4 linked regions of the Homo sapiens genome follow. The protein of the gene in region 1 purifies or fractionates together with the protein of each later gene. This does not show direct contact. Each region holds a gene or a part of one and is shown in the gene's direction. Other genes may lie near its edges.

Region 1 (5,114 bases):
CTCCCTCTTCCCGCCCCTGTGCCCTGTTCCTGTGCCATCTCCCGCCATCCTCACCCGTACGTGACTTCTCAGTTGGAGTCTCTCCAGGTCACAGCCTCCCTGCCTGCCGTGTCTGCCTCTCCACGGCACACCTGGCCTCTCCCCCTCAGCCGGGGCTCCATGGCCCTCCACATTGCCTCTCCTCCCCTTTCCTCCCTGGCTTCCCTGATCATGGTCCACAGCAGGGGCCACGTCCCATGGTGTCAGTGGATGAGGAAGCCACTTAGTGTGGTGGGATGTCCACACACCTGCACAGGACTCTGCTGAGACGGAGGCTTCATCTTCCTTTTGGTTCTTCTCTTCTTTCCCCAGATACGGTGGCGAACGAGGCCACGCTGCTCGATACTGACTACGACAATTTCCTGTTTCTCTGCCTACAGGACACCACCACCCCCATCCAGAGCATGATGTGCCAGTACCTGGGTGGGTCTCACAGCACATGAGCTCAACGTGGGTGAGAGGCAGCAGCTACGTCCGTGGCTGGGAACCCTGGGGAGCTGACAACTGGCTTCCTGTCCACCTCGGTGCCTGTGGGCTGACTTTTTTTTTCTTGGTTTTTTTTATTTGTTTGTTGTTTGCTTTGTTTTTTTGAGAAAGGGTCTCATTCTGTCACTCAGGCTGGAGTGTAGTGACGTGATCTCGGCTCACTGCAACTTCTGCCTCCCAGATTCAAGCGATTCTCGTGCCTCAGCCTCCAGAGTAGCTGGGATTACAGGCGCACGCCACCATGCCCAGCTAATTTTTGTATTTTTTGGTAGAGACGGGGTTTCACCATGTTGGCCAGGCTGGTCTCCAACTCCTGGATCAAGTGATCCACCCGCCTTGGCCTCCCAAAGGGCTGGGATTACAGGCGTGAGCCACCACGCCCGGCCAGGCTGAGTTTTTCTCCAGCGGTTCATCGAGTCCTCTGACAAAGCAAGGAGCTGATATAGGGCCAGTGGGACGGTCGCCAGTCAAGGGGCTGGGCTTGGTGGATAGATTAATACTCACTGGGCGTCCAGTCAAAACGCCCTGAAACCTATGATGCTGTCAACCAAACGAAGGCCAGGAATACCAAAATAGCCACATAGGCACAGCCCTTCCCCATGTTTCTGAGCACAGTGTTTCCTCTGGGGTCACACAGGTGTCTTCTTGATCAGCCTCAGCCATGCTTGGTGAGAGCCGGGCACTGGGAGAGCCAGGCACTGTGCTCTCCTGTGACGCTGTAGACACCATCCTAAGCTGTGCAGACCCCAGCGCTGCCCAGAGCGGAGCAGAGGGGGCCGGGCCAAGGAGTGGGAGCTGGGGTCAGGGAACCTGGAGGTGCAGTGGACAGAGCCCCGGAGACCGCCCTAGGGACCTACTCCAGACCAAACTCTGCCAGACCTCGGAGCACTGGGGCCTCCTTCTCTGCCCTCCCTCCTCAGGCAAGGCCTCTGGAGCTCCCCAGCTCTCATGGAAGCCCCAGGGGCCCAGGACTGACCCAGCCTCTTCCACAGCCAGAGTCCTGGTGGAGGACGATGAGATCATGCAGGGATTCATCAGGGCTTTCAGGCCCCTGCCCAGGCACCTATGGTACTTGCTGGACTTGAAACAGATGGAAGGTGAGCTCTGCCTAGGACACGCCCAGCCTCAGCTGGAGGAGAAGCTGCCTCTTTCTTAGCCCGAGCCCCCTGCTGGCTCTGCAGGACTCAGGTCACTCCTTTTTGGCCCCTCCCCTGTTCTCCCCTGGCCTTCTGGGGTGCAGAGCCACCCTGAGGTGGGGTCCTGCCCTCTCCCACCATCCTTTCATCCCTTCTCTAGCCCTGGGGCTGCTGTGTCCCCAGCTGTCTCTTCTCTCGCTGACACCTCCACTGTCCCATCTCCTCCCACAGAGCCGTGCCGTTTCTAGGTGAGCTCCTGCCTGGTCCTGCCTCCTGGGTAATGTATCAGCCTCGCCCACTGTCTGCGGCTGCCTCTCTGGGCCCCTGGGACAGACCCTACTGTGTCCAGTTCAGGGCTGACCCTACAGGAATGAACTGGGGTCTGGTCTTGTGATTCCAGAAAGCCAGGCTGCTGACGTCCCCATTCACGAGCCCAGCCTGTGTCTTGCAGCCATTGTATTAGTCACGGGCTTGTGCCCTATAGTCAGACCTCATGCTTTCTTTTGGGGTTAGGGGTGTTGGTTGGAAATGGTGGGGGCTATAGGAGGAGGAAGGAGGATGGTTACATGGAAGGGCATGAGAAGCTGGGGACCTGCAGGTCTCGGTCCCACGTTCTTTTTTTTTTTTCTTTTTTTAAGATGGAGTCTCGCTCTGTCACCAGGCTGGAGTGCAGTGGCACAATCTCAGCTCACTGCAACCTCGACCTCCTGGGTTCAAGCGATTCTCCTGCCTCAACCCCCCGAGTTGCTGGAACCACAGGCGTGTGCCACCATGCCCAGCTAATTTTTGTATTTTTAATAGAAACGGGGTTTCACCATGTTGGCCACGATGGTCTCAATCTCTTGACCTCATGATCCCCCCGCTTTAGCCTCCCAAAGTGCTGGGATTTCAGTGCCACATTCTTAAGGGGGTGTCCTCAAGCCCACCACATCCTTCCAGGGCTCCCCCGAAACACCCTGCTCTTCCTCCCTCTACTTAAGTGACCTGTAAACCCAACAGCTCACCTCCGCCTCCAGGAAGACCAGACTCCCACCCTTCCACACCTCCAGAGCAGTGGGACTTCCTCCTGCCCTTTCAAAGAATAACCACAGCTCAGAAGACGATGACGTGGTCATCTGTGTCGCCATCCCCTTCCTGCTGCACACCTGCACCACGGCCATGGGGAGGCTGCTCCCTGGGGGCAGAGTCTCTGGCAGAGGTTATTAATAAACCCTTGGAGCATGTCCTGTCTGGATGCGCAGCCACTGCTGGGTGTGGGATTCAGGGACGAGGGCCTGGGGTCGGGGCAGGCCCAGGCCACCGCCTGGCAGAACCGGAGCTCCTACAGACCCATGGGCAGCTTCTGGTGGAGAAAATACCTCAAGTTTCTTATCTACAAAACAAAAGGGTCCACTTTCACAAACTTGTGAAATGTCTAGAACAATAAAACCAGGACACTCATATCAGAATTGATGAGCCCAGAGGAAAACTCATAGTCTTTAATACTGAAATGGGTTAGCAAGAAATAATTAAAATCAATGAATCTGTAATGAGCTCTTGTTAGAAAAAAAAGCGTTAGAATGAGGAAAGTAAGAAAATAGAATGAAGGAAGATAAAAGCAAAAATGACAAAATCAGAGAAACATATCAAATTCATGCACCTGTGCCCCCAGGTGGGGAGGGGTGGGCATGGTAGGATTTAGCTCACCTGTCAGAAACACCCAGGAAAAAAAATTCCAGCAAGTATCAATCACCACAGATTAAGAGAAAATAGATTAAAAGAGTCATAAGGGATTATGCTATTTGACTCCAGAATATATTTTTTACAATCCAAAAGAGATGATTTCAAGGCAAATATAAGCATCCAAAACAGATCAGAGAAGACTGGAGACAGAGTAGGTAAGGACCCTTCCCAAGGCAGACAGACAGACACAGTCAGAGGTCTGTGTCCCAGCCCAGCCCCCAGCATCGAGAGCAGCCGGGCAAGCGGCCAGGGATCTCCTGCTCCTTTCGGGAACAGGTGAAACGAGGCAATGTGAAGAGTCGCAGGCATGGGGAGGGGGCAAAGCTTCCACACTCGTTTCTAATGCTGGGAAAATATCTCCATCAAAACTCCACAAAACCAGGCCCTACCAGGAGTAACTAGGACTTGTGAGGCAGTAAGGAACGTCCGCACTGTCTATATAACAAACAGGCCATTTTAACCCAGGCATGGGGGCTCACACCTGTAATCCCAGCACTTTGGGAGGCCGAGGCAGGCAGATAACCTGAGGTCAGGGGTTCGGGACCAGGATGGCCAACATGGTGAAACCCCATCTGTATTGAAAATAAAAAAAATCAGCTGGGTGTGGTGGCGGACGACCTATAATCCCAGCTACTCTGGAGGCTGAAGCAGGAGAATCGCTTGAGCCCAGGAGGCAGAGGTTGCAATGAGCCGAGATCGCACCATTGCACTCCAGCCTGGGTGACAGAGCGAGACTCCATCTCAAAAAAAAAAAAACCCAAAAAAACAACAACAACAACAACAACACTCAAATAGGCCATTTCATCCTCATGACTGCCCATGGGGCAGAAGCCCTTACTGTCTCATTGCCCAGCTGGTGGGTGGCACATGGACTGGCAGGGAGTCTAATACCCACACATGCAACCATTGCACCTGCTGGCTCCATCACCACACCACCCTGTGTGTCGAAGCAAACACCCCGAACAGTACCGGTGCCCCTGGAACCCAGTCACACGGTGAGAGAATCACAGAGGCGTCTACCTGAGCTTCACCCCCGGAAGACATCTCTGGACATAATTGTGTAATTAAAGGATCAAGAATACCATGATTTCTCTGCAGATGCTGGAGTCTGTTAAAAACATTAAAACCCTTTCCCTTTAAGTTCTCTACAAATGGACACAGAGTAAATCTCTAGCACGTGTCATTAAGTGAGACAAATGAGGCAAAGAGGCAGGTACATGGTCTTTGCTGACTTTCATACAAGAAAGAATGGAATTAAGACTGTCCACACCTATTTGGAAAAAGACACAGGAGGAATGAATGGAAATTAATGAGTATGGTCATCTCTGAGGATAAAAATGCATGCAGAGGGTAGGAATCGAAGCCAGCCTTTTATAAGTGTAACTTTCATGCAGTTTTAACTTTTGAACCAGTTAACATTTTATGTATTTAAAATATAAAATTAAAACAAAAAGTAAAAGGCGACAAGCCATAAAATGAAAACAGAAACAAATGAAACTAAACCCTAAAATCGACAATTTCAGAGGAAAGAAACTGCTTCAGGTAATTGTTTTTTCTAGTGAAGTGTTTTCCTTGGCTGGCTGCGAAGCAATCCTGTGTGAGGCTTGATCACTTCCAGTATTAGTGGCTGTAAACAGGGATGGAACACACATCCTCATTTCAAAATCTGTGGCTGGACCTCATGCACGCTGTGTTGTTAAGAGGATGTTAATTGTGCTACATGACAACTAC
Region 2 (9,414 bases), on another chromosome or scaffold:
AAATTAGCCGGGCGCAGTGGTGAGCTCCTGTTGTTCCAGCTTCTGAGGAAGCTGAGGTGGGAGGATCACTTGAACCTGGGAGCTTGAGACTGCAGTGAACCCCAAGCTGTCTCACCCCAGATAGCCAGGACTACAGGTGTACACCACCATGCCTAGTTAATTTTTAAATTTTTTGTAGAGAAAGGGTCGCGCTATATTGCCCAAGGTGGTCTTGAACTCCACCTACCTGGACCTCCCAAGGCACTGGGATTACAGGCATGAGCCACCATGCCCAGCCTACTTTGCACTTTTTTTTTTGGGGGGGGGGCAAAGTCTGGCTCTGTCGCCCAGGCTGGAGTGCAATGGCACAATCTTGGCTCACTGCAACCTCCACCTCCTGGGTTCAATCGATTCTCCTGCCTCAGCTTCCCCCTTCCTCAGCCTTCCCAGTAGCTGGGATAACAGGCATGCGCCACCACGCCCCACTAATTTTTGTATTTTTAGTAGAGATGGGGCTTCCTCATGTTGGCCAGGCTGGTCTTGAACTCCTGACCTCAGGTGATCCTCCCACGTTGGCCTCCCAAAGTGCTGGGATTACAGGCATGAGCCACTGTGCCCAGCCTACTTTGCACATTGTTTTTTTGTTTGTTTTTTTGTTTTTGAGACGGAGTCTCGCACTGTCATGCAGGCTGGAATGCAGTGGCGTGATTCTCCTGCCTCAGCCTCCCAAGTAGCTGGGATTATAGGCACCTACCACCATGCCCGGCTAATTTTTTTGTATTTTTAGTAGAGATGGGGTTTCACTATGTTGGCCAGGCTGGTCTTGAACTCCTGACCTCGTGATTCATCCGCCTCAGCCTCCCGAAGTGTTGGGATTACAGGCGTGAGCCACTGCGCCCGGCCACTTTGCGCATTTTGACTGTTGCCTAATGTTCTGTCAGATCACTGTGCCATGACATCTGTTCTCCTGAGGGTGGACGTTTTGGTGATTTAAAACCGTATAGATGTGGTTTTAAATGTTTTAAATGTTGCACCCTGTGCTGTGCTCCTTCCCAGCAGAGAATTGATTCATTTTTCAGCATATCCCCCTTAGCCCCTAGCTAAGTTTCTTAAATTGGACTTGGTAAATGTGCTTTGCCTGCCCATGGAAGATGTCTTTCTGTTTTACCGTACTTGTTTTTGCAGTATGGGTTTAGGGAGTAGCTGCCATTTATCCCTTCCCAAGAGAGCAGAGGCACTACTATGCTCACGGAAGGTGAGGATCCACCTGGGGGCTTGATGTCTATTGGGGTAGTTGTGGAGGTCACCCTCAGAGAAGGAGGCCCTCTTGACTCTGCGGTGGTCATGGTGGTGATGAGAAAGCTGAGGCGTGGGTATATGAGACAAGTGCCCAGAGTCTGTCATTAGCAAGTGGTACAGCCAGCCATGGGGGCTTTTGAGATGTTTGTGAGATAAAACCTCACCCCTCAAGAAGCCGGAATCTCCTTGTCGTGGGTAAATAGGCAGGTTTGGGCCGGGCGCGGTGGCTCATGCCTGTAATCCCAGCACTTTGGGAGGTCAAGGCAGATGGATCACCTGAGGTCAGGAATGCGAGACCAGCCTGACCAACATGGTGAAACCCCATTTCTGCTAAAAATGCAAGAAAATTAGCTGGGTGTGGTGGTGCACGCCTGTAATCCCAGCTACTGGGGAGGCTGAGGCAGGAGAATCACTTGAACCTGAGAGGCAGAGGTTGCAGTGAGCCAAGATCACACCACTGCACTCTAGCCTGGGTGACAGAGCGAGACTCCGTCTAAAAAAAAAAAAAAGGGCAGGTTTGAATGGTGGGGCATATTTGTCATGTTCTCTGTACAATGATAGAGGGAGAAGTAATCGAGCTAGACCTTGACCAATATGGGACTATGAGAGACAGAATGGCCTAGATGGGTGACTAAAGGTGTTCAGGGGATGACAGGTATCCCTTTTGGACTAAGGACTGCTGATGGGGCTGAGTAGGTAAGGCTTGAAGGAGAGCAGCCTGGGGAGGATGAGACAAGAGGTAGGGAAACTGGTAGGGGCATCACTGCTGTGGTCTGACCCAGAGTGGTGGCCCTGGAGGAGTGGAGGGTGGCTGTCTGAGATGGAGGAGAGGTGAAGGAATCAGAACTAGTAGGTTCATAGGGCACATGGGTTAGAAAGGAAAAATATTAAAACAGTGAGGTTTCCAAGATGGAAATGGTAGCTTTGATAGTAAAATTAGACAAGTTGGAGGGCTACTAGCTAGATTAGGCACTGAGCTGTAGGTGAAACTGGGAATGTGAACCACTGGGAAAGAAGGATGGGCTCGAGCAGGGTGTGTGGGATGAAAGAGAGAGGTCAGAAAAGGGAGAATTATCATAGAGCAGAGTTTCCAGGCAAGAGAATCCTAAGTGAGAGGTGGTCATGGGGTATACACCTTGGCTGTGGCCATCTCTGGGGCCTTGGTGAGAAAGATGAGCCAGCCCAGGAGGGGGAAAGGAATGGGTGGGTGGCTGGATAGAGGTCCCAGGTCCTGGAGGCAGACTCAGGGGCAGGCACAGATAACTGAGTGTGTTTGATGGGAAGCAGTAGAGCATCCAGGGGATGGGGTTGGGGGTGGCCCTGAGCCTCAGTAGTGAAGAGAGAGACCTCTTCTTTTTGGCAAGTTTTATATCAGCATATATTTTTCATTTTTTCTTTTAAAGATATATAATCATGTGCCACACAGTGATGTTTCCGTCAATGACAGACCAGACCACATGAAGGATGGTGGTCCCATATTTTTACTGTACCTTGTCTGTGTTTAGATACACAAATTCCATTGTGTTACAGTTGCCTATAGTATTCAGTACTGTGATATTGTGAAATATATATTTGGTCTTGTCTCATTTCTTGGCATACAACTTCTAAAATCTTTGGACTTTCCAGAGTGATGCCTTTTTGTATGCTGGCCAGCAGCCCCTAGGTAGCTTCAGGATGGGGGCTGGTGACAGGAAAGGCCAAGGCAGGCATAAGAGGGTTGGGACTTTCAGCCTCACCTCTCAACCTCCGGAGAGGGGAGACAGGCTGAAGATTAAGTTCATCACCAATGGCCAGTGATTTAATCAGTCATGCCTACATAATGAAGCTTCCATAAAAATTCTGAATGACTGGGTTTGGAAAACTTCTGGATAGTTGAACACATGGAGGCTCCTAAAGAGTGATGTTCCTGGAGAGGGCCTGGAAGCTCTGCACCACTTCCCACATGTCTGGCCCCATGCATCTCTTCATCTGTATCCTTTGCAATACCCTTTATAACAAACCAGTAGACATGAGTATTTTCCTGAGTTCTGTGAGTCGCTCTAACAAATTAGTTGAACCCAAGAAGGGGATCTTGGGAACCCAATTTATAGCCTATTGGTCAGAAGCACAGGTGAAACAACCTGGGAGACTCAGCCCTCAACCTGTGGGATCAGACACTGTCTCCAGGTAGTGTTAGAGTTGAATTAGAGCAGGGGTCCGCAACCCCCAGGCCTCAGACCTGTATCAGTCTGTGGCTGGTTAGGAACCAGGTGGCACAACAGGAGGTGAGTGGAGGGTGATCCAGCATTACCACCTGAGCTCCACCTCCTGTCAGATCAGAGGTGGCATCAGATTCTCATAGGAGCACAAACCCTGTTGTGAACCATGCATGTGAGGGGTCCAGATTGTGTGCTCCGAAAGAGAATCTAGCTAATGCCTGATAATCTGAGGTGGAACAGTTTGATCCCGAAACCATTCCCCGACCCCGTGGAAAAATTGTCTTCCAAGAAAGTGGTCCCTAGTGCCAAAAAGATTGGGGACTGCTGAATTAGAAGACACCCAGCTGGTATCTGTGGCAGAATTGATTGCTTGCTTGTTAATGGGGAAAAACCCTCACACATTTGGTCACAGAAGTCTCCTGTGTTTGTTGTTGTGGTATAAGAGGAGAGGAAAAACAGTGTGTTTTTTTCATTCAGAACTACAGTAACATGCTGTACAAGTATGTAGCTTAGGAGCAATTGGCTGTACCTTATGGCCTAGATGTGTAGTAGTCTCTACCACCTAGGTTTGTGTAGGTGTACCCTTTGATGTTCACACACTGAGGAAATTGCCTCCAGCGATATAAGTCTCAGAATGTATCCCCAACATTAAGTGATGCATGACTGGAGGTAATTGGAGAATAAACATATTTTGGGGAGAGGAAAGTAGGATGAAGTGAGGTGGAGAAGACAGATGTTCACATCTTGTAGCTGACTGTGCTGTGCCTACAGAGCCTGCAGCTTGGCCATGCCTCACAGTGTGGGACTGGCCACTCCCTGACCTGAACAGCTGGCTATCCACAGTCACTTTTGGTTGCTCCATGGCAAAAGTGCATTTGCAGTAGGTTCATTTTACTGATTAGGTTTTAGAGGCTCCAATTCAAATCAGTTTGCGGTTTTTGAACGTACTGACTCAATTATTAGAAGATAATCTTTAATTTAAAAGGCAATGCAGATGAATTTAAATGCATCAGGTTCAATCACAGTTACTGTGCTTGACTCTCAGAATTTCAGTAAAGGAAAGTAGGCCCTGGAAATGCCACCCCCTTGGCACCCACCTCCCAGACTCCTGGCTGTGTGTCTCCTGACCACTACTCAGGTCTTGCCATTTTTATGCATCCATTACTATGAGGAAGAACCCAATTTTGTTCATTCAATGGGAGGGAGGAAGAGCTCTTGAGAACCTGGTGTGTGCTTATGCTTCATGTTCATTGTTTTACCAATTTTAGAATACCCCAATGGGGTAGGTACTTTTATCTCTCTTTTTAAAATTGGGGAGCTCGAGGCTCAGTTTGGTCATGTTGTAAGTCCCTGTGGAGTTGGGCTCCAACCCAGGTCAGTCTGTTTCCCAAAACCCTTCTGTTTGACTTTGCCGCTGAAGAAGATACAATGAGATGAAGAGTCTTGGGCATGATGGCACACAGGTCATCAGGAAGAAGGCCATCAGGAAGTTGGACTAGAGGTGGGAGGGGAGAAGGAATTAGGGGATTTGGAAATAGAGGGAAAACAGGTGAGCCTGAGGGAGGCACAGGAGCAAGGGGAGCAACAGAGCTGGCCAGTCTGTGTGTGGTGGGGCTGATGCCTGCCTGCTCACCCCTGTCCCCTGTTTTGCCAACTGTCAGGCCACAGTTGTAAGGGATCTTGTGGCTGTCAGGATGGCAGAGGAGCAGGAGTTCACCCAGCTCTGCAAGTTGCCTGCACAGCCCTCACACCCACACTGCGTGAACAACACCTACCGCAGCGCACAGCACTCCCAGGCTCTGCTCCGAGGGCTGCTGGCTCTCCGGGACAGCGGAATCCTCTTCGATGTTGTGCTGGTGGTGGAGGGCAGACACATCGAGGCCCATCGCATCCTGCTGGCTGCGTCCTGCGATTACTTCAGGTGAGTTCACTAGAGCTGTTTGTAAGAAGAATAACAAAGGTAATCCTGGCTCTGCTAGTAAAGGTACTGGCGGTGACAGTGGCTGGTCTCCTGCTCACCTCAGAGCCTCCCCTACTCCTTGTGGCTATGACTTAGTCAACAAGTGTGAGAGACAGAAGGGGGTCTTAGAGTTCATTTTTCATTCAGTGATCCTGTTTCTTGGGCTTTGCCTCCTCTTCTCTTCCCTCTCTTCTCTTCCTTTTCTTTTCCTTTTCTCTCTCTTTTCTTTTCTCTTTTCTTTCCTCCTTTCTCTCCTCCCCTCCCTTACCATTCCTCCCCTCCGTCAGTAATTATTGCTGTGTATGCATCACCTTCTGGCTCACACCTCTCATCCCTCAGGTGTTAGCCTCTGGCCCTCCCAGTGAGCTCTGTGGCCCCTCTGGGGTTTCTTATGGCCTCCTTCGTGACCCCATCCCAGCACTTGGCACAGTGTGAGGAACCACTGGCTTATCTGTCTTTTCCACTGGGTTGGAATCTGTCTCTTATCCCTAGCACCTGACATGGTTTTCACATATTCAAACAATACCCATGGCTTAAATGAATAAATTTATGTACACAGATAGCAGATCAATACACCATTTGCCCTGTTGTCTGCACTGCTCTGCACTCAAGGAGGTGGGTGTCACCACCCTTATTTCACATAGGTGGCATGAGCCTGAGAAGGACTGAGGGCCACTCGTGGTCCCCAGCAAGGTTGTCATGGGACTCCAAGCCTGAGGTGTTCCATTCTAGCTCTGATTCTGTTCAATCATTTTGTCTTCAAGGCTTAGTTGTAGTTCTCTCTCTCTCTCTTTCTCTTTATCTCTCTCTATTTTTTTAATTAGGAACTATCAAGCAAAATATGTATGGTTTAAGTGCCTTCTGTCTCCAAAAGGAGTTTTGGAGAATGTGACCCAGTGGTGGCTTGGTGCAGATGTGTCCAGGAGCAGCAGAATTCTTTCAGTTCACCAGGGAAATTCAGCTGAGGCCTTTAATAAGCATTAAGATAACATACAGGACAGTGGGTAGGGTAGAGGAGCTGAGGGCCCCCTGCAGGGGACTTAGGACCTGTATAGGAGAGGATGGCCAGAGGCTGTGGAGCCTATGGGATCCCCTGGGCTCACCCTCTCAGCCCTTCTTGATTTAGTGTCATACCACTCTTTCTGAAGATGACAGTGTAGGCAGCCTTTCGCTAATCTGTCAAAAACCTTATGTGGCTTTCCACGTCCTCCAGGAGCAATTTCTAGCCCTTTCCACAGCCCCCCTTGGGTAAACCTCTTATGAGAGGTGTCCTGCTCTCCGGGATGATTACAATGCATCACTAACACCCCCTGCATCCCTCCACTTCCATTGGGAAGGGGAGCGGGAGAGTGGCAACATTATTGGAAGAGCCCAGAGTCATTTCACAGGGGGGTGTGTGTGTGTATGTATAAATAAGAAATAGAGGCCAGTCACGGTGGCTCACACCTGTAATCCCAGCACTTTGGGAGGCCAAGGCAGGTGGATCACTTGAGGCCAGGAGTTTGAGACTAGCCTGGCCAACATGGTGAAACCCTGTCTCTACTAAAAAAAAAAAAAAAAATTAGCTGGGTGTAGTGGTGGGCGCCTGTAATCCCAGCTACTTGGGAGGCTGAGGCAGGAGAGTTGCTTGAACACAGGATGCGGAGGTTGCAGTGAGCCGAGATTGTGCCACTGCATTCCAGCCTGGGTGACAGAGCAAGACCCTGTTTCAAAAAAACAAAAAAGAGGCTGGATGTAGTGGCTCACGCCTGTAATCCTAGAACTTTGGGAGGCCGAGGCGGGTGGATCACCTGAGATTAGTAGTTCGAGACCAGCCTGGCCAACATAGTGAAACTCCGTCTCTGCTAAAAATACAAAAACTAGCGGGGCGTGGTGGCACATGCCTGTAATCCCAGTTACTTGGGAGGCTGAGGCAGGAGAATCACTTGAACCCAGGAGGCGGAGGTTGCAGTGAGCCTAGAAAGAGGCCAGGCTTGGTGGCTCACTCCTATAATTCCAGCACTTCGGGAGGCCAAGGAGGGCGGATAACTTGAGGTCAGGAGTTGGAGACCAGCCTGACCCACATGGCAATACCCTGTCTCTACTAAAAATACAAAATTAGCTGGGCGTGGTAGCACATGCCTGTAATCCCAGCTACTCAGGAGGCTGAAGCAGGAGAATTGCTTGAACCCGGGAGGCGGAGGTTGCAGTGAGCCGAGATTGCGCCACTGCATTCCAGCCTGGGCAACAAGAATGAAACTCCGTCTCAAAAAAAAAAAAAAAGAAAAGAAATAGACCATTCCCAAGTGTTAGCATGTTTATTATTTGTTTTAGTTACTTGTGAAATGTTAAAATGATAAAGGACTATTTTTTTCCCAGTATGACTGGTAAATATGTGTGAGAGGCTTGTAATATTTGATATGGGCAAGGGTAGAGAGAAGGGCATTTAGGGGTGGGCTGGCCCATAGTTTAGGGCCCTGCAGTTGTATGTTGGGTGTCTAGGTGTCATTCCTGTGGGACGATGCACCCAGTGCTGAGACATGGTGCAGGACAGAGCCTTTCTGTGTTATCCAATGGAGCTACTTGCAAACTGGGCAGTGTGGTGTGTCTACTGATAGGGAGTGAAAAACCTCAGGACCTGGTGGAAGATGATCCCAACCATGAAGATCTGGAAGGATCTTGCTGCACCGTGGGGACTCAGCAAAGGGCAAAGGGAGAGGGAGGCTGAATTTCTTCTGTTTACTGCATTGTCTGAATTATTTTACAAAGAACATAAATTTCTTTTTTTTTTTTTTTTTTTGAGACGGAATCTCACTCTGTCACCCAGGCTGGAGTGCAGTGGTGTGATCTCGGCTCACTGCAACCTCTGCCTCCGGGTTCAAGCAATTCTCCTGCCTCAGCCTCTCGAGTAGCTGGGACTACAGGTGTGCGCCACCACGCCCGGCTAATTTTTTGTATTTTTAGTAGAGACAGGGTTTCACCATGTTGGCCAGGCTGATCTCGAACTCCTGACCTTGTGATTTGCCCTCCTTGGCCTCCCAAAGTGCTGGGATGACAGGTGTGAGCCACACCACGCCCAGCCTTTTGTTTGTTTGTTTTGAGATGGAGTCTCGCCCTGTCCCCCAGGCTGAAGTGCAGTGGGGCAATCTCGGCTCACTGCAACCTCTGCCTCCCGGGTTCAAGTGATTCTCCTGCCTCAGCCTCCTGAGTAGCTGGGATTACAGACGTGTGCCACCAAACCCGGCTAATTTTTGTATTTTTAGTAGAGGCGGGGTTTTGCCATGTTGGCCAGGCTGGTCTCCAACTCCTGACCTCAGGTGATCCGCCTGCCTTGGCCTCCCAAAGTGTTCGGATTACAGACGTGAGCCACCATGCCTGGCCTCTTCTCTGCCTTTTCTGTCCTGTGGAAATTTTTCTTCTTTGGCCCACCTGAGATGCCTCCTCCTCTGGAGAGCTTTCCCTAATTGTCCCTTGCTGTTTCCCAGGTGGAGGAATCTCAGTTTTCCTGAAGGGCAGAGAGCTGTACTGCCCTGCTGCAGGAAGCCTCCTGTGCTCTTTCTGTGTACTCTGTACATGGTTTAGGAATTGGATGGCCAGACTGCATTTTCTTTTTTTGACTTTTGTTAATAACTTTTCATTGCACACTTACTTTGGCTCCCCTGACCCTACACCCACCTTGTATGCTTTAACCTTGTATGCTTCTGAGGTGGTTTCTCCTCTCCTCCTGGACCCTTATAGTCTGAAGAGCCCAAAGGCTCTGTCCTTTTTATACAACCTCCATGGGTCACCTCGTCCCTCCCTTAGTTTTCATTCCATCTGTGAATTATAAAAGACTGCTTAGCTGAACTCAATGTCTGTTACTTTAAAAGTTTGGATACAATTGATGATTTTATTTTTAAAAAATTAATAGCACTTTATCCCCAAAAGAGAGAGAAAGTTGTATTCCCCACAAAACACAAAGCCCAGATGTTTTCCAGGGTAGGTGTGCCTTTTATGAAA
Region 3 (6,641 bases), on another chromosome or scaffold:
AATAGCATAATCTTTCCTTTTTGGGGGAAGAGATAGTACTTAAATGGAATTCCTGGTTTCTTACAGAAAGAAACAGATTCCTGAAGATTATAGTCTTTTTGAATTCTGTGGTTCTGTGAGCTAACTATAAAACTCAAGGAAACTAGCAAATAGGTTGTAATTCTTCCAAAATGGGCCAGACTGACAAAAAGGGAGCAAGTACTATACTTCTTTACTGCTTAAAAACTTAAACAAGAGGTCTGGAAGCCTGTTGCTTTCTAGTTGATTCTAATTAATGTTGCTGAAGAGGATGGAAATGGTTAATATTCTATCAACAAAGGGTGAGTGGTTATCTATGAATTAGATAATGAGAATCAATTATCACAACAAAAAGAGACATTTTTGCAAAAAAAATTTGCATGTTTCTTCCTTTTGTTTTTCAGACAATTGAGAATCTGAAATTCTTTAATCCTGAAATTCTTTAATCCTATCTCTCACAGTAATTTACCAACACAATTTTTGCATATACTTCTAAAACTTGATTTAGAAACAGACTGTGTTTTAAATTTGTATTTAATTTTTGTAAAGTTATGTTCCTGTGTCTGCTCACAAAAGTCTATAATGCTTGGTATAACTGTACTCAAGCTGAACTATAGGATAAAATTTTAAAAGTTAGGCCGGGTGCGGCGGCTCATGCCTGTAATCCCAGCCCTTTGGGAGGCTGAGGCGAGTGGATCACAAGGTCGAGAGATCGAGACCATCCTGGCTAACACAGTGAAACTCTGTATCTACTAAAAATACAAAAAATTAGCTGGGTATGGTGGCACGCGCCTGTAGTCCCAGCTACTCGGGAGGCTGAGGCAGGAGAATCATTTGAACCCGGGAGGCGGAGGTTGCAGTGAGCCAAGATTGCGCCATTGCACTCCAGCCTGGGTGACAGAGCGAGACTCCATCTCAAAATAAAATATAATAAAATAAAATTTAATCTTTGACAGCAAAAACATTGTCAAGAACATATTTACTTTCTGTTATTTCTCACACACACACCAAAACACTAGTCCTCAGCAGTGTGTGGCAGGGGTATTTTTTATTCCAGTGGCTTGGCAGTCCTGCAGTGTCACCATTGACCCTGCTCTGGATACAGGTGAAAAAGAGGGAGGAGTGGACACAGTGTTATGGCGGGTGGGTGCAGGGGACTTAGGCTACATGGTGATACCTGGAGCTGAGGATAGCAGCACTGTTGATCTTGAAGTCAGCATGCAGTGTGGACAGGTTATTTTTGGTAGCATTATAGCAACTGGCATTTGTATATATGGCTTATTTATAAGTAGTATTTGAATAGAATACTGCCCTAGGAAAAACAGAGTGAAAGAGATGCTAGAAGCATGGACTACTGGAGTGTTTTACACCCAATTTTCGGAATGATTTACCTGTGTATATACAGTATAAATGACTAAAAGTTAAACTTGTGGAAGCAAATTTCTTGGCTAGTTAAGAAGGAAAGAATGGGAGTTTATACTTTTCAGAAAAAGAAGGAACACTTAGGTGATTATAGGCAGAAGGGTAGTAACTATGTAGAAGCAACAGAGGAAAGAATTTGGAATAGGATTTCCATTCCATGCTTTGCAGTTTTTTCACATCTGTGCCCTTCTTGGAGTGCACTTTCTTCCCCCAGAAGGATTTTCTCTAATCTGATTTTGTTGCTTCTACCCATAATCGTACTCTTGATGCTGAATGCTGATTGGCAAGTCAGAAACTTGGCCAGGCATGGTGGTGCACCTGTAATCCAAGCTACTTGAGAGGCAGAGTCAGGATTGTTAGAGCTTAGGAGTTCTGGGCTGTGATGCACTATGCCAGTCGGATGTCTGTACTCTTTGGCATCAGTATGGTGACCTCCCAGGAGCAGGGACCACCAGGTTGCCTAAGGAGGGGCGAACTGGCCCAGGTTGGAAAGGGAGCAGGTTAATACTACTGTGCCGATCAGTAGTGGCATTGTGCTTGTGATTAGCCACTGCACTTCAGCCTGGGAGACATAGGAGATCTTCATCTCTTAAAAAAAAAAAAAAAAAAAAAAAAACTGACAAAATTGTTTGAAGATTTTTTCTTCCTTTAGACAAAACTTGAATACTTATACAGAATGATATTCGTGTCTTAAAAATAAGTATAATATTTACCATCTTATTTTTGTTCTTTGTTTTCCTTGCTAGAAAGTACACAGATGATAGATTAGTTTAACATTGTTGTAGTTCACCTGGTATAAATGGTAACCATCTTGACTTAGTAGACATTGCTGAATTGCCTCTTAGCTAACTCTGGGAGATTAAGATTTTTTGTTAGGAATTATGAATTTGTTTCCAAGGAGCACATAAAATCTTAAGTTACAAGAATGGTGGATGTTCTAAGAAATACCTTATAACTGTTTCTTCATGGAGGCTCATTGAGTATTTCTTACAGTATCACTCTAATTTATGTTCACAAGTGGTTGGAGTTTCCCATTAAAAAGAACAGAGCTTCCTACCAAAGAAATCTAAATCTATTAATAAATTTGCAGCTCTCAAGTAACTGAGTGAAATTGGCAGTCCAATTAAATATATTTACCTTCCAGTTTTTGCATGTTGTATTACTGACATTTCTGTTACACATACTCAAGTTGAATAGAAACATGTCAAAATGCCAAGTATAGTGGCTCACACTAACTGCTCGGTATGTTTTCTATCTCCCTTTTTTAAAATCTCATTTTAAAATATTAGACAGTCCTTTTGAAAGAAAATGGTATAATATCAAAGAACCACTGGGTAGGAAATACTATAAACGATCATTAAAAATAATGCTAGAGTTTGCAATCAAAGCTTCCTATTATGTCTGCTCTGCAGTATGATTTGAGAGGTATAATTTCGGGTATAACATGCGTTTCCCTAATTCAAGTTCTTTGTCTAGTCTTAGTGGATATTAACATTGAAAACCACTATTTTGAAGCATCTTGGTCCATAGTTCTCTTCCTTTTTGAACTTTTAGTCACTAAGCACTTTTGCAAGAGGTAAAGAGCCTCTTTAGGTTTTAGTGTTTTTCATCTTTAAAATGAGAATATTAATTACAGTGCTGTCTTCATCACATACTGAAATGGAACTATGTAGCCGACTACTAAAGGTACTACTGCTAAGCAGGGATCTACTTACCACTGAAAGACTACTAATGGTCTTCCATGATATATGTAAACAGAATCTTTTGTGAATCCTTCACCACACTGAAGCCTTCTATAGTCTACTCATTCTCTCATTTTAAAAAGTTTATTCTTTCCTTCTTTAGTTTTCCTGTTTGTTTTTTTAGATGCTGTGTACTCAGCCTCAAGAATACTTAGAGCCACGAATTGAGGGTTCCTCTTCATTTCTCCTTCTGTTTGGTTCCTTGTTTGCTGTTGTGAATAGCATTCCTCAAAAAGATGCATCAACATGAATGATGCAAATGACCATCCATTTTTGTGCATTATCATTTGCAAGCACAATATGGTCTAAAGTATTCTTAAGTTCCTGACAGTTAACTTTTGATGAACTTATAAGTAGCACAAAATATGTTCTTCAGAAATTATAGAACCACTGTAGTTTGAAATCTGTGTTCAAGGTTGTCTGGTGTTAATATTAGAATAATGGGTAATTTAAAGAAATAGGTATTCTTTAACTTAAATTGAAATGAAGTAATATTAGCAGTTTTCTCCTTTGCTTAGAAGAATTATATGTAGGCCGGGCGCGGTGGCTCCCAAAGTTAATCCCAGCACTTTGGGAGGCTGAGGTGGGCGAATAACGAGGTCAGGAGATTGAGAACCTCCTGGCCAACATGGTGAAACTCTGTCTCTACTAAAAATACAGAAGTAGCTGGGCATGGTGGCGCATGCCTGTAATCCCAGCTACTTGGGAGGCTGAGGCAGGAGAATTGCTTGAACCCGGGAGGCGGAGGTTGCAGTGAGCTGAGATCACGCCACTGCACTCCAGCCTGGTGACATAGCAAGACTCTGTCTCAAAAAAACAAACCAACAAAGAATTATATGTAAATAGCAGTTAATAACTCAGATTTTTAAAAAACTGATTTATTTATTTTTAGAAACAGGGTCTTGCTATGTTGCCCAGGCTGGCCTCAAACTCTTGGGCACAAGCAGTCCTCCCACCTCAGCCTCCCACCTCAGCCTCCCAAGTAGCTGGGACTATAATAGGCGCCACCACTGTGCCCAGTTATTTTTAATTAAAACTTATGGTTTGTTTAGTTATAAATAAAGTTGACATTTTAAAAAACAGACTAGTTTCTTGCTAGAAATACATGTTTATGTATGTGTTGTGAACATATATATGATTGTGTTTTAAAACAGATATGACCACATTCTGAAGTGGGAACTCTTCCAGCTGGCTGACCTGGATACATACCAGGGAATGCTAAAGTTGCTCTTCATGAAAGAATTGGAGCAGATTGTTAAAATGTATGAAGCATACAGACAAGCCCTTCTTACAGAGTTGGAAAACCGAAAGCAGAGACAGCAGTGGTATGCCCAACAACATGGAAAAAATTTTTGAGCTGATTTTTTAAAAATTTAAGTTTTGTAAGAGCTTTAAAATATTTTCACAGATAAAAAATTGCAAACAAGTACTCTGGTTAATAAATGCTGCTTCCTTTGTGGAAATTATAAAATTCTAACTTTACATGTATTTTGTTATTAGAAATTTTCTTTTATTGAATGAGAAAAATTAGTCTATCATTTTAAGAGCCAATATGGCAAACACTTTCAAATACTGTATATTAGGAAACTGTTTTGGTATTCTTGATGGAAAAAAACGCAGCGGAAATGTCATTATGAACAGATGTTAAATAGGAAATTATTACTTGTTAACTTCTTACAGCAGTAGTACCTTCTTTAAAAAAAAAAAAGAATCTGCGGTATTTTTTTAAAAAAAAAGTTTACCGCTGTAGTGTGAAATATTGTCTGGAAAGGGATGGTTTAAATATTACCATGATGTAGTTGAAATATAAAATAGGATTTGGAACCTTATTGTGATAAATATTTATATATGATGTATGTTTGTCTCCCCTCTCCAAAGTAAGGAACCCAGCTGGGCGTGGTGGCTCACTCCTGTAATCCCAGCATTTTGGGAGGCCGAGGTGGGTGGACCGCTTGAGTCCACGAGTTTAAGACCAGCCTGGGCAACATGGTGAAGCCCCATCTCTACAAAAAATACAAAAAAATTAGCCGGGTATGATGGTGTGTGCCTCTAGTCCCAGCTACTTGGGAGGCTGAGGTCAGAGGATGGCTTGAGCCCAAGAGGCAGAGGTTGCAGGGTCAAGATCGCACCACTTGCACTGCAGCCTGAGAGAGAGAGAGCCAGACCTTGTCTCAAAAAATAAAAAATAAAAAAATAAAAACAAAATAAGGAATCCTTTTAAAGCATGTTGAGAAAGTATTTTTTGGTATGAATGGGTGACGGGCCTTTTAATCTTTCAGGAATACATATAAGCAGGAATACTTAGCCTGTATTGGGAAGGTGCGTGAAACTCAAAGTTGCTAACATCATCTTCCTTATTTTCAGCCAGTGCTGTTACTGCATTTAGCATGGCTCTGACGAGGCAGTGGAGAGTTCCTGACAGCATAGCATACTGCCTTCTGACAGACTGGGTTAAGCTACCAAAAATGACAACCAGGGATTCAAAAAAAATTTTTGGTCATTAAATCGAATGTATATTATTACTTTTTAATTTTCTAAGTATTTATCACAGGACTTTAACACCATATATTTCCCTCCCAGTTTTTCTCCCCTTTTGGTTTAATAGTTAAAACATTTTTCATAATTAGTGCTGTACATTTGATTGCAAACAAATTGGTGATACTTCTAAACTATAACTATAAATCTCTAGAATTCTGTGAATTTCAACATTATTTGAAGTAGTTCTTCAGTTATATTTACATGTGTTGTAAATATGTAAATATACTTTTAGCTTAGGAAGTCTTCCAGAATACAAACTACTCCCAGTTAGATATCAGTGAGTTTGAATAACTGAAGAAATGTTGACAATGTTAAGTGTTTGATTTTATATAACAAGCTTATTAAATATATTTTTGTGGAAACTAAGCGCGTGGTTTTTGAGTCCATGTTTTAGACATAGTGCTGTATTTCATTTTTCTGTTCAAAAGGCCATAGACAAAGGAATCAATATAATTGAAAGGGGTAATGAAAAGGGGTATTGAAAAATGAAAGTGTGGCTAGTGGAATTTTATCACTGGGAAAAGATAATTTGCTGAACTTGTGATCAGACTTTTCTAAGATGTCAGTATATATATCTTATGAACTCCCACACTCCTCTATCTTAATTGTTCTTTCCTGTCACTTCTTACTTTATATCGCTACTTAATTATGGTGTAGCCATTTCTGTGACAGTCTTTAGAAGTTTCTCTGTTTTGGACCTCCTAGATAAGTATTACTTTTTTCATTAACACACTTTCCTTCTTCCTCTAAGAAGTCTGTTCAGTGAAACTCCACTAGAGATTTTAGTCATTAAGAACTAGAAGTTACCTAAAGGAATTAGCATGTTTTGTAAAATAGAAACTTAAGTTTGTACTGATGTCAACATTAAATAAAATGCATCTTGAGTCTAAAAAAAGAGATAAACCTTCATCATTCTATATC
Region 4 (9,414 bases), on another chromosome or scaffold:
TTTGCAGAGACAGGGTCTTCCCGTGTTGCCCAGGTCAGTTTTCAAATTCCTTAACTCAAGTGATACTCCTGCCTCAGCCTCCCAGTGCTGGTGTTACAGGCATGAGCCACTGTGCCCAGCCTTTTTTACTGTATTTTTAAGGACAAATTTTACAAAAATGATTTCCCTTTTTCTAACACAAATTGATACAATGCCTAGTTCTGTTCTGCCTATGAAAGATTTTTTTAAAGTTATAAATGGGGTGAGGATTAAATTAGGATAAAACTAAATCCATGGTGATTTGGCCAAAGGAAAAAAATCCTGAAAAGGTAATGAAAATAAGAGTTATATTGTATCTAAAAAAATTACTTTAATAAGTAATTAATCATTTCATGGATAATTTGTAAGTGATCTACTTTGTAATTAATATTTAATGTTACATTTTAACTTCTATACATTCGTGTGTTCATTTTAGTTTGAGTTTAATATTCTGTGTTAAATTTACTTATTTCAAGATAAATGTTTAGGTGATAGAAATTCCAATTACCCTGATTTGAGCATTACACATTGTATGCATTTATCAAATGACATATGTACCCCAAAATATGTGCAATTATGATATATCAATTAAAAATTACTTATTTCACAATGATTACATATAAACATTCTTTTTTTTTTGGAGACAGAGTCTCACTCTTTTTCCCAGGCTGGAGTGCAGTGGCGTGATCTCAGCTCACTGCAACCTCTGCCTCCTGAGTTCAAGCGATTCTCCTGAATCAAGCCTCCCGAGTTGTAGCTGGGACTACAGGTATACACCACCATGCTCGGCTAATTTTTTGTATTTTTTTTTCAGTAGAGATGTTTCACCATGTTGCCCAGGCTGGTCTCGAACTCCTGAGCTCAGGCAATTCCAAAGTGCTAGGATTACAGGCATGTGCCACCGTACCCGGTCTATATATTTTTTTTCTTCTGGATGGGAGTTACAGGATTATAATGAAAAACAGTGACATTATATGTGGCTAAGTGGAAGAACATCTTGTCAAAGGAAAATGATTTTCCTTATTCACATTTACCCTTTCAAGGGCTCCGTGTGGTATTTGGGCTTTGCTGTATGTTACATCATATTAAATGAGGAAGACTTCATTCAGATTATGAACTAATATTTTTAGTAATCCAACTATTCTGGAAACATATTAATTCAACAAATATCTATTGAGTGAGTGCTGGGGAAAACAAAGCAATGATAGAGATATATACCTCCTAGAGCTTGCATGTTAGTGGGATAGACAATTAACCTAGTAATTAAGAAAGAGAATGTGAAGGATTATGACAAGAGATTCACAAAACAAGGGTTCCTATTCTGATTTCAAAACTAACTGCTGATGTCAGTGTATTTCTCTAGTATCGAACTATCCAACTCTCCTATGTATATAGATCATATTTATCCTTTGGAGTGATGATGGCAACTGTACCCAGATTTTCCCTAAATTATTACAGTAAATTTGTTGAATTTTCAAACGTGTGCTTGGAAATATGACCACTCTGAGATTTGAGCATTGGTGAATGTGCAAGGGAGAAGGAAGCACTGTTAAAGAGCAAACTGGGAAAATCCATGATAATCCTTAACACCACAATCCAGAATTCTCTTCTAGGAAGAACGGGAAGATGGTACTCCATTTGCATGTTTCTTGCCTGCATTACAAAAAAGTTTGTTTTGTTTTGCCTAGGTTATATAGATCATTGAGAAAGGGAATGGAAATAGTATTACACAAGATAGTTTTGAATATTACCTGGACTGTGTTAATAATAATTCCTTCTGATGCACTTTAGGAGTGCATTGATCATGCTTCTGTTTCATTATTTTAAATAGATAATGTATCCAGTGCTGAGGGTTGGCATGTAAATGTGACCTTGAATATTCGTCCATCCACGGGCACTGGTGTTATGCTTGCCTTGGTTTCTGGTAACAACACAGTGCCCTTTGCTGTGTCCTTGGTGGACTCCACCTCTGAAAAATCACAGGTAACTTAACTCTAAACCTATATAAGCCTTGTTTTTCTTTTCATTTTTTAAAATGTATACATAGCAGTATTTACCTCAAAGGACTATTTTGAAGATTAAATAAAGTAACTTATGTAAAGTGTTTGGCACAATCTCCAGCACATCATTAAGGACTCAAAAAATGTCTATTATTGTTACTTTTTTTCTGGCTTGTTTCCAAGGTCTGAATGAAGAAGTAAGGGGAGGGAGGAATGAAAAACCTACTGCATCTATACCTAAGATTAGGCAGACTCTCACACAGGCTGCTTGGAGCCATCCGAGTACATAGAGATCCACCCTTATTAAGAATACTTTATGTGTTGTGGGAATTAGTCTGTACTGTCAACATAGAAGTGAGTCTAATTACAGTGCACTGTCAGATATTCAGTGCTTAATTATAATGTTTTGTTCTTTCTTACACTCTTAATCTTTTCTCCCAAGAGTAAGTTAGGAAAAAAGAGAGAAAGTTAAAACTGGTCCACTTGGTTTCTTACTGGCAACTCTTATTTGAAATTAGGAGGAAGAACACGAAAAAGCCTTAGATGAAAGGAAATATGAGGGTTATCAGAAAATCTGTATTATTCAGACTTCTATTAGAGCATAGTCGTTCTGTCTATGTGTCATCCACAGTGCATTCTAACAAGTTACAGCAAGAAGCTGATGTTTATGCCAAGGCTGACTTGGATGCTTTCAGTAGATTTTAGAAAGAGACCTGTGGTTGAATAATGTCTATTGTAGTAAAACAAGTTATGCTGTTTGCAACTTAAAGTATGATTCAGGGAGGAGGATGGGAAGTTTCTGGTGGTTAACCATAAGTAACCTAAAAATATCCTGATGAGTTTTTTTTTGTTTTTGTTTTTGTTTTAATCTCCTGCCTTTAAGGAGCTTTCTACATTTGGATTTCAGGGGTTTTTTGTTTGCTAGTTTGTTTTTCTTTTTAAACAAAATGGAATTCTTATCTTAAACACTACATTCATGCAGTGGAGGAGGTTAACGCATGCCATGTCTTTGATATTTAATTTATCCTTTGAGTGTTTGCCTCCGTGGTTCTTTCTTTGCATGTCAGATTTCCTTCTCAAGGTCTATGCAATATTTCATAACATTATTCCAGATATCATTGATCATTTTGGAGCATTTTCTTTATTGACAATCTCTTTTAATGAGTTTAAGGATACGGACATGTACAACACAATAACAGATTTCCTCAAGTAACCTATATTTGCAAAGTTAGTCTTTTCACTTAAAATAGGTATCTTGGATTCCTAAATAAACATTTCTGATTATGTTTTTATCACTTTCCTCTATGCCATATAAGCTATATGAAGAGATCACACTCAACACATTGAGTAATTTAGGCATAACGGCAGTTTGAAAGGTTCAGCAGAATGAACACATTTTCTTTCTGTAGAATCTTCTGGTAAATGTTCTATAACGTGCTGGTGGCAATCCCTGGTTTTTCTTTCTCAGGGCCTCTTCATTTATTTTATCCCAAGTCTGTAGGATTGCTTGTGTGGCACAAAGAAACCTGTTAGTCCTGCTGGCATATGCTTACTAAAGCATTTTAAATTTCCCAAGTCTTTTCTCAACAAAGAGTGATTCAACTCCTTCCCTTTTCATATGTAAACTTGGAAATTAGGAAGGCTCATAAACAGAAAGATATAAGACACTCCTATAGGTTCCGGTTGTTTTACGGAATTTTCAGAAACCAGTATACATTTATATTTTAGCTAAACTTTGAGTTTGTAAAACTAATGTGTATTTTAAATTTTAGTCATAATTATTATAAATTAGTCTTATAATAATTAGTGATTTTTCCCTTAAATTTAGAGGCTCTATCATACATTTTCTTTCCTTATTGAAATTTAGTTTTTGACTTTCAAAAACTCAAAAGTCACTCTTAAGCAGCATTACTCTTACTCCTTGCTTATATTGAATCTTTGCTCTGCTCTTCAGGATATTCTGTTATCTGTTGAAAATACTGTAATATATCGGATACAGGCCCTAAGTCTATGTTCCGATCAACAATCTCATCTGGAATTTAGAGTCAACAGAAACAATCTGGAGTTGTCGACACCACTTAAAATAGAAACCATCTCCCATGAAGACCTTCAAAGACAACTTGCCGTCTTGGACAAAGCAATGAAAGCAAAAGTGGCCACATACCTGGGTGGCCTTCCAGGTATCTGCTTACTTTTTCTTCAGTTTTAAAAAGTATATTTTAATCAAACCGATAATATTTTAAATATATAATTATAGTAAAAAAGCATCAGAAGGGAACATAAAATCCAGTATTCATTATTCTTTTTCTAGGGGCTAGTACCGACATTTTATTGGCATATTTTTGTTTTGTTTTGTTTAGTTTAAAAATGTTGAACTAAGGCTGATCAAGTTTTGCTTCATTTGGCTATCCCAGCCAGAAAGGATATGTTATTTTATTTCATCATCACAATAGTCTTATAAGTTCAATATTTGTTCTAATTTACCCAATATTTATTCATCTATTATTCAGTTCATCTTATCATTTATCCAGCTTTTTTTTTTTTTTTTTTTTTTTTTGAGATGGAGTCTGGCTCTGTCGCCCAGGCTGGAGTGCAGTGGCACGATCTCGGCTCACTGCAAGCTCCGCCTCCTGGGTTCACGCCATTCTCCTGCCTCAACCTCCCGAGTAGCTGGGACTACAGGTGCCCGCCACCACACCCGGCTAATCTTTTTGTATTTTTAGTAGAGAGGGGGTTTCACCGTGTTAACCAGGATGGTCTTGATCTCCTGACCTTGCGATCCGCTCGCCTCGGCCTCCCAAAGTGCTGGGATTACAGGCGTGAGCAGTGACAATAGTTGTAGTATCTAACTACCATCAACTATTGCAAAACAAACAGTCTGGGCACTGTTTAACGTGCTTCAAATATATCCACTTGTTTAATTTTCAAAATAGTCCAGTGAGGTAAGTGCTATTATTATCCCCATTTTACAGATGAGGAAACTGAGGAAGCTGCAGGACCAGGGTGATAACAATGAAGATGATGGACAGTAAATAGATCGGAGATATGTGTTAGAAACAAAATTAATAGGATTTAATAACTGAAAGACAGGTATAAGGATGACTTTTAGGTATCTGGCATGAGCAGTTGCATGGATGGAGATTCCATTTACCAAGATGGGGAAAACTGGAGGAAAAACAGATTCATCTTTAACTGAATATTGGAAAATATGAAATTGGCACCAATATTTCACTTTAAATGGAAAATTAGAGGCAGAAAGTTATTTAGAAGCATTTTCAGATGACATTTGCAATTTATTCTCATGGGGAGAATTCTGAGTTTGATGTCTGGACCTCTGATAACCTTCAATATACTGCTTAAACTGCTCATGGTCTTGATTTCCCATATATGGAAATTGTATCTGGGGTTTTGGGAAATAGAAGTAAATAGGCTTTAAAAGCTATAGAAAGACAGACAGATAGATAGATGATAGATAGATAGATAGATAGATAGATAGATAGATAGATAGATAGATAGATAGAGGTAAGTAGTGAGCATGCCTAATTATTAGGGAGTAAAATTATAGTTTAAATGAATAAATTCTATATTGAAATCTACCTACTACCTTATCCACAAGTTAGTTGAATGCAATTTTAGGAAATCAAACCAACAAAGAGTTTAAAAGAAGTAGAATTATCAAAATTTCAGTGGTTTCGGGATTTTGGCAACAGCACTGAGGACTAACTTCAGGCAAAATGTCTTGAGAGAAAGAGTGGGGAAGATTTGAGAGGAGCTAAATATTGAGATATTAAGAGTATAAACTGTGAGATGGGTAAATTATTAATTACATGCAAAGTAGGCATGTAAAATTCCATGTGAAGTACTAAAACCCAAGAGAAATGAATGATTTTGAGTAATTTCTTTCCTCAAAATCGAATGAATTTGAGTAATTTCTTTTCTCAAAAAAGGAAAAGTGGCATAATCTATGATGTTTAGCCCAACTTGAAAGGGATTCTTAACAAATGCTATGAGCTCACAGTCATAGTAAAGTAGGAACTTTATTCACTGTGTTGGCAAGTTAGAAGTTGAAAATTTAAAGGTTTTTTTTTGGCATAAGGTACTGAAGATGAAGAATAAGGGCTAAAGAATATCCATTGTGAGTTAAGATTAATGGAGAGGAGAGGCCAAAAAAGAGGAAGGAAAATTGTTATTTTTAGGAACTCTAAATAGTACATGAAAGTGAATCCTGTATCATGACCTATTGTATGCTCAACAAAAAAATTGTTTCTTTGGAAAAATACAGAAATCTGCTTTTATTCCAACAATAATAAAAGAGATATATTGATCATGACATTTAAAAGAGATTCCCAAGTAGCTATAATTTGGAGTTAAGAAAATGATTTAACAATGCTTAAACTGTTGCTTAAGTTTAAAGAGAAAATAGTATGTTATTTGTATAATAAAAATAGAATATCACAAGAATATGCTTGTTTCTACTCTCCCTCAAATGTGTTTAAGTTTAAATGGAACTAATTGTGTTTATGAAATCTGAGGAACTCATGACATGCTGAATTCAATGAAGTACAGTAACATGTATATCGGCGTCACTTAACATGTATTTATGGAATAGAATTTCACTATTAACTTTTCCTTTAGGATTAGAATTTGGTTGGAAACAGGAAGTCTGAATGACTTCTCTCACTGTAAACAAACAAGATGCTAAAAGTCTTGGACTAATATTCTAATATTTTCCTTTTACAGATGTTCCATTCAGTGCCACACCAGTGAATGCCTTTTATAATGGCTGCATGGAAGTGAATATTAATGGTGTACAGTTGGATCTGGATGAAGCCATTTCTAAACATAATGATATTAGAGCTCACTCATGTCCATCAGTTTGGAAAAAGACAAAGAATTCTTAAGGCATCTTTTCTCTGCTTATAATACCTTTTCCTTGTGTGTAATTATACTTATGTTTCAATAACAGCTGAAGGGTTTTATTTACAATGTGCAGTCTTTGATTATTTTGTGGTCCTTTCCTGGGATTTTTAAAAGGTCCTTTGTCAAGGAAAAAAATTCTGTTGTGATATAAATCACAGTAAAGAAATTCTTACTTCTCTTGCTATCTAAGAATAGTGAAAAATAACAATTTTAAATTTGAATTTTTTTCCTACAAATGACAGTTTCAATTTTTGTTTGTAAAACTAAATTTTAATTTTATCATCATGAACTAGTGTCTAAATACCTATGTTTTTTTCAGAAAGCAAGGAAGTAAACTCAAACAAAAGTGCGTGTAATTAAATACTATTAATCATAGGCAGATACTATTTTGTTTATGTTTTTGTTTTTTTCCTGATGAAGGCAGAAGAGATGGTGGTCTATTAAATATGAATTGAATGGAGGGTCCTAATGCCTTATTTCAAAACAATTCCTCAGGGGGAACAGCTTTGGCTTCATCTTTCTCTTGTGTGGCTTCACATTTAAACCAGTATCTTTATTGAATTAGAAAACAAGTGGGACATATTTTCCTGAGAGCAGCACAGGAATCTTCTTCTTGGCAGCTGCAGTCTGTCAGGATGAGATATCAGATTAGGTTGGATAGGTGGGGAAATCTGAAGTGGGTACATTTTTTAAATTTTGCTGTGTGGGTCACACAAGGTCTACATTACAAAAGACAGAATTCAGGGATGGAAAGGAGAATGAACAAATGTGGGAGTTCATAGTTTTCCTTGAATCCAACTTTTAATTACCAGAGTAAGTTGCCAAAATGTGATTGTTGAAGTACAAAAGGAACTATGAAAACCAGAACAAATTTTAACAAAAGGACAACCACAGAGGGATATAGTGAATATCGTATCATTGTAATCAAAGAAGTAAGGAGGTAAGATTGCCACGTGCCTGCTGGTACTGTGATGCATTTCAAGTGGCAGTTTTATCACGTTTGAATCTACCATTCATAGCCAGATGTGTATCAGATGTTTCACTGACAGTTTTTAACAATAAATTCTTTTCACTGTATTTTATATCACTTATAATAAATCGGTGTATAATTTTAAAATGCATGTGAATATCTTTATTATATCAACTGTTTGAATAAAACAAAATTACATAATAGACATTTAACTCTTCATACAACGAAGTAGTTCTTCAGTTAAAAGACAGATAAAGCTCCAATATTTGAATAATATTTATGGTTGGGTGGTAGACTGGAGCTCAGAAGGTGAAGAGAAGCAAAAGTAACATGTATCTTTTGACACAAACCATAAATTGTCTTGCTAAATATAATTTGTTTCCCAATTGCCACCAGGTACTATGGGGGATGAATATCAGCAAGTGACTATTGATAATTACATTCATGTAAAAGAGCAAGGAAAAAGAAAAACAGAGAAAACATACATGAGAGAGGGAAAAAAAAGTGAAAGAAAGGGGCGGAGTTCCCTGCTTTTCATTTGATTATGCCACATACAGGTCAGATATAGGGATCAATTCTACCTTTCACATCAGGAGCAGAAACCTTCCCACATGCAATGATGCTCGTAGAGGCTCCAGAGACGCATTTATAAATTTCATCTACCTTTGAGATGTGCTCATACATGCCTAGAGAGAGGGTCTAGACCTATGGCTAAGAATCTTTGATTGATGTTTAGTTTTGAACTTTGCCAAGAAATATAGATTCCTACTTTTAAAGAGTTGGTAGAGAACAAGGCAAAGTGGATATTTGGTGCCATTTCAGCTTTGTATATAAGTAAAAAAAACTCCAAATAACAGGGCCATTACAGAGTCCCTTAGAATTCACCTTTTGAAAAAGCTTTCTTTTTTCTTTTTACTTTTTGAACATGTTATGTGAGATGGTAATAGAACTTAACCATTTGCAGCGGTCAGTGATGGATCAGTGAAAGCAATGGTTAATCTGTAAGAACAGGACTATTCACCTAATTTCTCCTGTCTGAAAGTATAATTCTAGTCTCAGTCCCTATATGCCAATACAATAAAGTATTTCCAATTTTCTTTTCATTCTAGAATTAAGGAACTGGTGGGATTACTGGAAAGAGGACTTTTTCATGTGAAAATTTTTCACAAAATAATTGCCTATTTATTTTTGCATTTCCCTGGACCTTTAGTTGCTATCATCGGTGGGAACTGAAATAATAAAGAAGATGAATATCTGAAATAATTTTTAGATTTCATCATGTTGGTATTAATATTGATTTGGGAGATGACACGGTCACTAGAGACTCAAAGGGCAAGTATGATCAATTTCTAATTCATTCATTCAGCAACAAATATTTATCAAGCACCTACTCTACTCTGTGCATGTGGAGTCAAAAGTAGTATGTCTGCGGGCTAAACCCAATGGAATAGGAAGTCACAATACTCAAGTTGGCCCTTGGTAGTCCTCAGGTTCCTGTTCCTTGGA

Evidence for each region.
Region 2: the proteins of PAEP (region 1) and KLHL22 purify together in Homo sapiens (co-immunoprecipitation; 2 studies listed by BioGRID and IntAct, with this or other methods). This does not show direct contact.
Region 3: the proteins of PAEP (region 1) and SAV1 purify together in Homo sapiens (co-immunoprecipitation; 2 studies listed by BioGRID and IntAct, with this or other methods). This does not show direct contact.
Region 4: the proteins of PAEP (region 1) and PROS1 purify together in Homo sapiens (co-immunoprecipitation; 2 studies listed by BioGRID and IntAct, with this or other methods). This does not show direct contact.

Annotation. Positions count from the first base shown.
Region 1 is NC_000009.12:135,563,893-135,569,006, forward strand, and holds the end of PAEP (glycodelin isoform 1 precursor), read left to right. Parts: intron 1-351; coding exon 352-462; intron 463-1,445; coding exon of another isoform or gene 1,446-1,517; coding exon 1,518-1,622; intron 1,623-1,892; coding exon 1,893-1,909; exon of another isoform or gene 1,910-1,938; intron 1,939-2,641; exon of another isoform or gene 2,642-2,660; 3' UTR 2,661-3,063; downstream 3,064-5,114. UniProt on the Homo sapiens protein: Glycoprotein that regulates critical steps during fertilization and also has immunomonomodulatory effects. Four glycoforms, namely glycodelin-S, -A, -F and -C have been identified in reproductive tissues that differ in glycosylation and biological activity.
Region 2 is NC_000022.11:20,484,968-20,494,381, reverse strand, and holds part of KLHL22 (kelch-like protein 22), read left to right. Parts: intron 1-817; exon of another isoform or gene 818-1,123; coding exon of another isoform or gene 1,124-1,234; intron 1,235-1,240; exon of another isoform or gene 1,241-4,551; coding exon of another isoform or gene 4,552-4,614; intron 4,615-5,137; coding exon of another isoform or gene 5,138-5,170; coding exon 5,171-5,397; intron 5,398-9,414. UniProt on the Homo sapiens protein: Substrate-specific adapter of a BCR (BTB-CUL3-RBX1) E3 ubiquitin ligase complex required for chromosome alignment and localization of PLK1 at kinetochores.
Region 3 is NC_000014.9:50,633,080-50,639,720, reverse strand, and holds the end of SAV1 (protein salvador homolog 1), read left to right. Parts: intron 1-4,336; coding exon 4,337-4,538; 3' UTR 4,539-6,141; downstream 6,142-6,641. UniProt on the Homo sapiens protein: Regulator of STK3/MST2 and STK4/MST1 in the Hippo signaling pathway which plays a pivotal role in organ size control and tumor suppression by restricting proliferation and promoting apoptosis.
Region 4 is NC_000003.12:93,871,750-93,881,163, reverse strand, and holds the end of PROS1 (vitamin K-dependent protein S isoform 2 preproprotein), read left to right. Parts: intron 1-1,849; coding exon 1,850-2,001; intron 2,002-3,972; coding exon 3,973-4,198; intron 4,199-6,758; coding exon 6,759-6,919; 3' UTR 6,920-8,113; downstream 8,114-9,414. UniProt on the Homo sapiens protein: Anticoagulant plasma protein; it is a cofactor to activated protein C in the degradation of coagulation factors Va and VIIIa. It helps to prevent coagulation and stimulating fibrinolysis.